2 linked regions of the Homo sapiens genome follow. The protein of the gene in region 1 interacts with the protein of each later gene in a pairwise test. Each region holds a gene or a part of one and is shown in the gene's direction. Other genes may lie near its edges.

Region 1 (3,500 bases):
GGTCCTGTGGGACCACTAGATGTCTATGCCCAATAAAGTCTGTACTAGAAACGCAGATTTAATAGTCACAGCACCATAAGCAGAGTGCATGGTTCCTTAGAAGAAAGTTTAGCAAATAATAAGCCCTATGGTTTCCTTAGTGGGAGACAAACAGCCTTCAGAATATACAAAAATCCCTGCCTTTTTGGAGCTTTATTTTAGCAGAGAGGGGAACAAGGGGCACATGGGCAATATAAAATAGTAAAATGTATGGTATATTAAATGGTGAAAGAAGTTCTGTGGAGACAGATTAAGCAAGGAAGTGGGACTGAGTATCAAAATCAATTTTTAGAAGGTTTGTTAAAGCTGATTAGCGGCCCCATACCCAGAGTTTCTGATTAAGTAAATTGGGAGTGGGACTAGAGAATTTGCAAGTTCCCATGTGATGCTGATGTTGCTGGTCTTTTTTTTTTTTTTTTTTCTGGTGATGAAGTCTCGCCCTGTCACCCAGACTGGAGTGCAGTGGCATGATCTCGGCTCGCTGCAATCTCTGCCTCCTGGGTTCAAGCGTTTCTCCTGCCTCAGCCTCTTGAGTAGCTGGGACTACAGGTATGTGCCACCATGCCCGGCTAATTTTTTGTATTTTTAGTAGAGATGAGGTTTCACTGTGTTAGCCAGGATGATCTCGATCTCCTGACTTCGTGATCCGCCCACCTCAGCCTTCCAAATGCTGGGATTACAGATGTGAGCCACCACACCCAGCCAACACATTTTTAAAATCACTAGGATAGAGAGTTGCCAAAGGGGTATGATGTTGCACTTTTAAAGAAGATGGTTAAAATGGGCCTAAGATGGTGACATGAGAGTAGACTCAAAGGAAGTGAGGGAGTTGGTTGTGTGACTATCTGGAGGAAGAGTTGATGCAAAAGCCCCTGGAATGTGCCTGGCATGTTTAAGGGACGGGGCAGAGTGCATCTGCAGAAGGTTGAAGCCAGAGAGGTATGGGGTCTGGATTGTAGAGGACAGTCCATCAGTCATCCATAGGATTTGGATGTGTTCAGCATAGAGGTACTATTTCAAGCCTTAAGATTGAATGAGATTGTCAAAGAAAGAGCAAAGCAATCTCATGATTTAAGGCAAAGTGTGATAATCAGCTAAGACACTGAGAACTGGGAAGCCTGGATGATTCTGAGACATTTTGAAGCAAGGAACAATAGAACTTAGAGCAGAAAGCAAATGACTCAGGGAAAAACATCAAAGGTGATACCAGGTTTTATAACCTAGGAGAGAAGAATGATTGAAATTGGGATAAAAGGGAGACGAGGAGTAATTAGGAAGAGGATTTGATTTCTGAAAATCAATTATAAGCAGTAGTTCCCTGTTTATCCTGTTGCCTTGTGCCAGGTGCAGTGGCTCACACCTGTAGTCCCACAGCTTTGGGAGGCCAAGCCAGGAGGATATCTTGAGGTCAGGACTTTGAGACCAGCCTGGGTAACAGAGTGAGATCCCATCTCTTAAAAAAAAAAAAAATAGCCAGGCATGGTGATGTGCCTGTAGTCCTAGCTACTTGGGAGACTGAGGTGGGAGGATTGCTTGAACCCAGGAATTTAAAGCTTCAATGAACCATGATCTCGCCAGTGCACTGCAGCCTGGGCGACAGAGCAAGACTTGTCAAATAAATAAGTAAATAGCAGTTTGGTCTTTTGTTGGAGGAACGTCTATTCTTAGCTTGGACACTGCGGTTTTTCCTTGGGCAGCAGAAGCAATGTGGCGATTGAAGAAGTGACCTAAAACTTTGATGTTAGGTAGAAGCAGATGGCCCAAGCCAAGACAAGTGCTTGTAAATCCACTGGTGGGAGCCCCTCCTCCTAACAGCAGGTTATTAACGCTGCCAGAAAAAAAGTGTCCCCTCTACCGGTCTGGTGAAGAAACCTCATCGCTACGGGCCTGGGACTGTGGCACTTCTAGAGATTCTCGTTACCAGAAATTGACCTAGCTTCTCATCTGGAAGCTGCCTTTCTAGAGGTTGGTGAGAGAGATCACCCAGGATTTCAAAACCAACTTTAGGTTTCAGAGCACAGTCATTGGGGTGCTGCAGGAGGCTAGTGAAGTGTACCTGGAGGCTAGTGAAGTGTACCTGGTGGGTTGGTTTGAAGATGCTAATTTGTGTGCCATCTACGGTAAGAGAGTTGGCTCTCATGCCCAAAGACATCCAGTTGGCTCGCCAGACACGGAGTGAGCGAGCTTAAGTGAAGGCAGATTTTAAGGCATTTTATATGAATTCTGTAAAATACTTTGGTTTAATTTGTGACTTTTTGGGGAGAAATTATTTATAATATGTTGCATTTGTGCTTAAGTCATTCCGTCTTTTGGGATGAATGTGAAAAGTGACTGTTCATAGACCTCAGTGACGTAAGCACTGTTGCTCAGGAGTGACAAGTTGCTAATACGCAGAAGGGATGGGTGACATTTTTTCATTCTCATGACGCATGTTTCTGTAAGTTAATGACTTGTTAGGTAGCTATTAAGGAACTAGAGTTGATAAATAAATGTGTATAGGTTCCTTTTGCAATATAACTGGTTATTACTTGATCCAAGTGTTTAACATTTGGAGCTAAGTCTGACCATACATTACTGTGATAGAATGTGGGCCTTTTCAAGGGTGAAGATACAAGCCTTAACCACAGTATAACTTGCAGTTTCCTTAAACAAACAAAGAAATAAAAACCTAGCATGGAGTACATTATGTGCATTTATAATAGCTATTTTAAATATTGTAGTGTCAACATTCAAAAATTAATTCTTTTACATTCGCAAATGGTGGGGAGTCTTGTCATTAAGGTGTGTATAACTTAGAATCCACTTGGTTTTCTCCTAACTGGACTGCATTTGTTTTCATAGTAGTAAAATGTTATGTGTATTACACCTTGCATAAGTCCTCATTCTACTACGTGTTAACTAACCCTCTAGATGATAATGCAGATGCTAACTGTGGGATTTTATTTATAAGAACTCTAGAATAAATACCAGTTATTCCTACCAACATCGGCTGTTACTAATATTCTGAAGTAGTTAGTGCAACTTTTCATTGTGTTGTGGTTGGTCTCCTAAGTAGGTTGGATTTTTCTCCTCTTCTAAGAGAAAACAATAGTGAAATTATTTTCTTTCTCTTTTCTCTCTGTTTCTGTCTCTTTCTCTCTCTCTTTCTCCCTTCCCTTCCCTTCCCTCCCCTCCCCTCCCCTCTTCTTTTCTTTTCTTTCTCTTCTCTTCTCTTTTCTTTCTTTCATGGGGTCCCTTGCTCAACCTGTTGCCCAGGCTGGAGTGCAATGACATGATCATGGCTCAGTGCAGCCTCAACTTCCTGGACTCAAGCAATCCACCTGCATCAGCCTCCAAAATGGCACATGCTACCATGCCCAGCTATTTTATTTTTACTTTTAGTACAGATGTGGTCTTGCTATGTTGCCCAGGCTGGTCTTGAGCCATTGAGCTCAAGTGATCCTCCTGCTTTGGCCTCCTAA
Region 2 (3,500 bases), on another chromosome or scaffold:
GAAGTGCTAGATGAAGGAATAAGGAAGAGAGGTTTGAGCTAAACTTTAAAGAATAAGAATTTCACTAGGTGGAAAGTGGCATTCTAGACAGAGAATTATATTGGTACTAATACATACTCATGATAGTACATGATATTGTTGAGCAGTGTAGAACAAACTAACATGGATGTTGTGTTCATGGAGAGCCGAAGTATGAAACATGAAGTGTTTCTAAGATGTTGACTTGTTCAGAGTTGTAGACGACAAAATTAAGCTTCTTCGGTACTTACAATTAAAGTAAATCCCTATAAACTCTATGCATATGGAAGTTTTTGTGTTATAAATAAGGATATAAATGCCTTAGTTAAATTATTATTGAAATGAGCATGTTGAAATCCAGCTTTTTAATTGAAATCATTAGTATGTTAATGTAAGTGTTTGGACCTGTCTTTAGGGGCACTAAGACCTGGAAATGGCCCTGAAATTTTATTGGGTCAGGGACCTCCTCAGCAGCCGCCACAGCAGCATAGAGTACTCCAGCAACTACAGCAGGGAGATTGGAGATTACAGCAACTCCATTTACAGCATCGTCATCCTCACCAGCAGCAGCAGCAGCAGCAGCAGCAACAGCAACAGCAGCAGCAGCAACAGCAACAGCAGCAGCAGCAGCAGCAGCAGCAGCACCACCACCACCACCACCACCACCTACTTCAAGATGCTTATATGCAGCAGGTAATTTTTTTGTTTCTTTAGATATGGAAGTAGTGTGAAATTGATGCAGCAAATTGAATATCAGTGAATTCCTTTTTGTATCATGGGCACCTTGAACTCTAGATTTGAGTAAACACTTTCCCCAATTTTCTAATTATGAAAGAATACGTATTTAATTTGCAATCAGTGAAATACTTAAGAATACTGTAAAATAGGTTGCATTGTGGCCTTATGAAGAAAAGAATGTTCATCTGAAACATTTAGTATTCACAAATAAGCACTGCAGTTTATAATGAATATTATCTGAGGTTACGTTTTGAGTTCACAGACTAATAATGCTATTGTTGGAAAGGTGATATTAGGCTTTTCAGAAGTAACATTGTCTTAGATTTTTGTCACCCTCCTGGTTTTGGTTGATAGATCCAGAGTGGAGGGTAGTAAGTAGGTGGTACCATGGGATGCCCAGAAGACACCACTGAAGGGGAGATTTAGTGTAATGGGGCTTGGTTAGAAGTCACTCAGGTGTCTTTATCTTCTAGGAAAAGGTAGTAAATGTGTTTTGGTAGCTTTCTTCTAAACATCCTTAAATTGTGCTAAAAATGGTTTTAATTGAATCTAATTGTTGATAATTTTGAAACCAGTTCTGATAAGCATATTTATTAATAAATTATAGTAATTTAGAGTATAGCTATTTTGTATTGATGTTTGGACTACTGATTTCTCAAATCATTATGGTAAGATCAATACTTTAAAAAAGGGCTCTGACACAAAAAAGGCATAACATTTATTAATTTGATTTTCTCGTTGTAGTATCAACATGCAACACAGCAGCAACAGATGCTTCAACAACAATTTTTAATGCATTCGGTATATCAACCACAACCTTCTGCATCACAGTATCCTACAATGGTAACTTAAATAATTTCTAGAGATTTCTCTGAGTATACATTATGGTGTTGGAATTCACAGTATGAATCATATTATTCAGAATTTAGTAATTCAAAATCAAGTAAGTTAATTGACATGTATTTTATCAAAGCCAGTCATATATTCTCAAGCAGCTTTAAATTGCACTGAACTATGGCACCTGAATATGGCACATAGTAATTGACCGATAACGTACTTCTCTTATGTCATTATATAAGGGAAATGATGTCTTACCTATAGTCTTTCGTCACATGTCTCTTTCATTCAGCACATATCTATTGAGTAAAAAAATGAAACCCAAAGGGAGAGTATATTTTCTTCAGAGAATAATTTGACCTTTTTTTTTTTTTTTTTTTTTTTTTTAACAGCAACCACTATATTAGTGACTTTAAGCTACTCTTTTTCTTAAAATACTTAAAAGAGGATTTTTGATTCTGGCCAAGTGAGCCTACCTTTACAACTTTTTAAAAAGATTTATTTCATCTTGCTGTAGTTTTCTAGTAATAGAGCTGCTTCTGTAGATGATTGTTTTTTACGTTTCTGATTTTGTCACCAATGTGAAAGGAAGGAACATAGTAAATAGATGCAGTGCTGACAGTGCTTTAGGACTGGAGCATTGTTTTGTATAATATCATTTCTTTTTTCAGATGCCGCAGTATCAGCAGGCTTTCTTTCAACAGCAGATGCTAGCTCAACATCAGCCGTCTCAACAACAGGCATCACCTGAATATCTTACCTCCCCTCAAGAGTTCTCACCAGCCTTAGTTTCCTACACTTCATCACTTCCAGCTCAGGTTGGAACCATAATGGACTCCTCCTATAGTGCCAATAGGCAAGTATTTTTCCAGTGAAAGCAAAGGAAATTATTGTGGAAGTGGAAGTCATCGTTGAATGGTCGGTCATTAAGTTCTCTTAAATTAGTTTAGAATTTATCTTTCTGTAGAGCCACCCATTCTCTCTTCCTAGTCCTGTCTTCTGGTCCCTTGGCATCCCCATCCTTCCGTTTCCTCAGTTAATTCTGCTAACTGCTATTTGTAGGTAAGGTGTAGCAACATCTAACAGCATTTAGGGCTAAGGATATTATTGGCTTGTATGTAAAGGCATTTTTGGTAATGTAAGTATAAACAACACCCTAACAAGTGACTTCAGCAGTTAAAAAAAAATCCTTGTAGACTTTCTCTATTTACATGTTATTACCTTTGATTAATTTTACTGTTTACTCATAAAGGTTGTATAATTTAATTTAAATAGGTATAAACATTTTTACATATATGTATTTTAAGATGATATATAGTATACATACTGTTACCGTAACATAGTTGGTAATAGTATATTTTGGCTATTGAGACATATTGGTTAGTAGCGTTATAAATTAAATAACTTTGGTACAAAATTTCTTAAACTTATACAAAATGGCACGTGCTTTAGCATCTTGTAACTAAGAATCATCATCAATGCCTCCTAATGTTTTTAGATACCTAGGAGGTAGGAGCTGTTAGACTTCTGTTACATGAACACTGAAGTTCTCATACAATGCTGTTTAAGGATTTGAAACATTAGCTGAGAAAAGGTGTCTATAAGCTTTGGCTCAGAGTTGAGCAGGAGAAACAGCAGCATCAGTAGCATACTTGTACACTGCATCTCAAAAGAGAGCTAAAGTATGCAGTTTGCTATAGAATGCCTCCCAACCTCTGTGTGTGTGTGTGTGTGTGTGTGTGTGTGTGTGTGTGTGTGTGTGTATGCATGCATGCATGTGTGTGCACATGTGCAAGAGACAGATGGTGGGGCGGGTATGGTAGAGAGGGAGACAGAAACGAATGGATTTCTTGAACTACTTTTCTAAAGTAAGAATTGGGGTGGATGAATTAGGACAATTTTGTCTA

What was found.
Region 2: the proteins of TRAPPC6B (region 1) and BMP2K interact in a two-hybrid assay, tested with the Homo sapiens proteins (one large-scale study listed by IntAct).

The regions. Positions count from the first base shown.
Region 1 is NC_000014.9:39,160,334-39,163,833, reverse strand, and holds part of TRAPPC6B (trafficking protein particle complex subunit 6B), read left to right. Parts: intron 1-3,500. UniProt on the Homo sapiens protein: Component of a transport protein particle (TRAPP) complex that may function in specific stages of inter-organelle traffic.
Region 2 is NC_000004.12:78,870,350-78,873,849, forward strand, and holds part of BMP2K (BMP-2-inducible protein kinase), read left to right. Parts: intron 1-433; coding exon 434-711; intron 712-1,500; coding exon 1,501-1,599; intron 1,600-2,264; coding exon 2,265-2,449; intron 2,450-3,500. UniProt on the Homo sapiens protein: May be involved in osteoblast differentiation.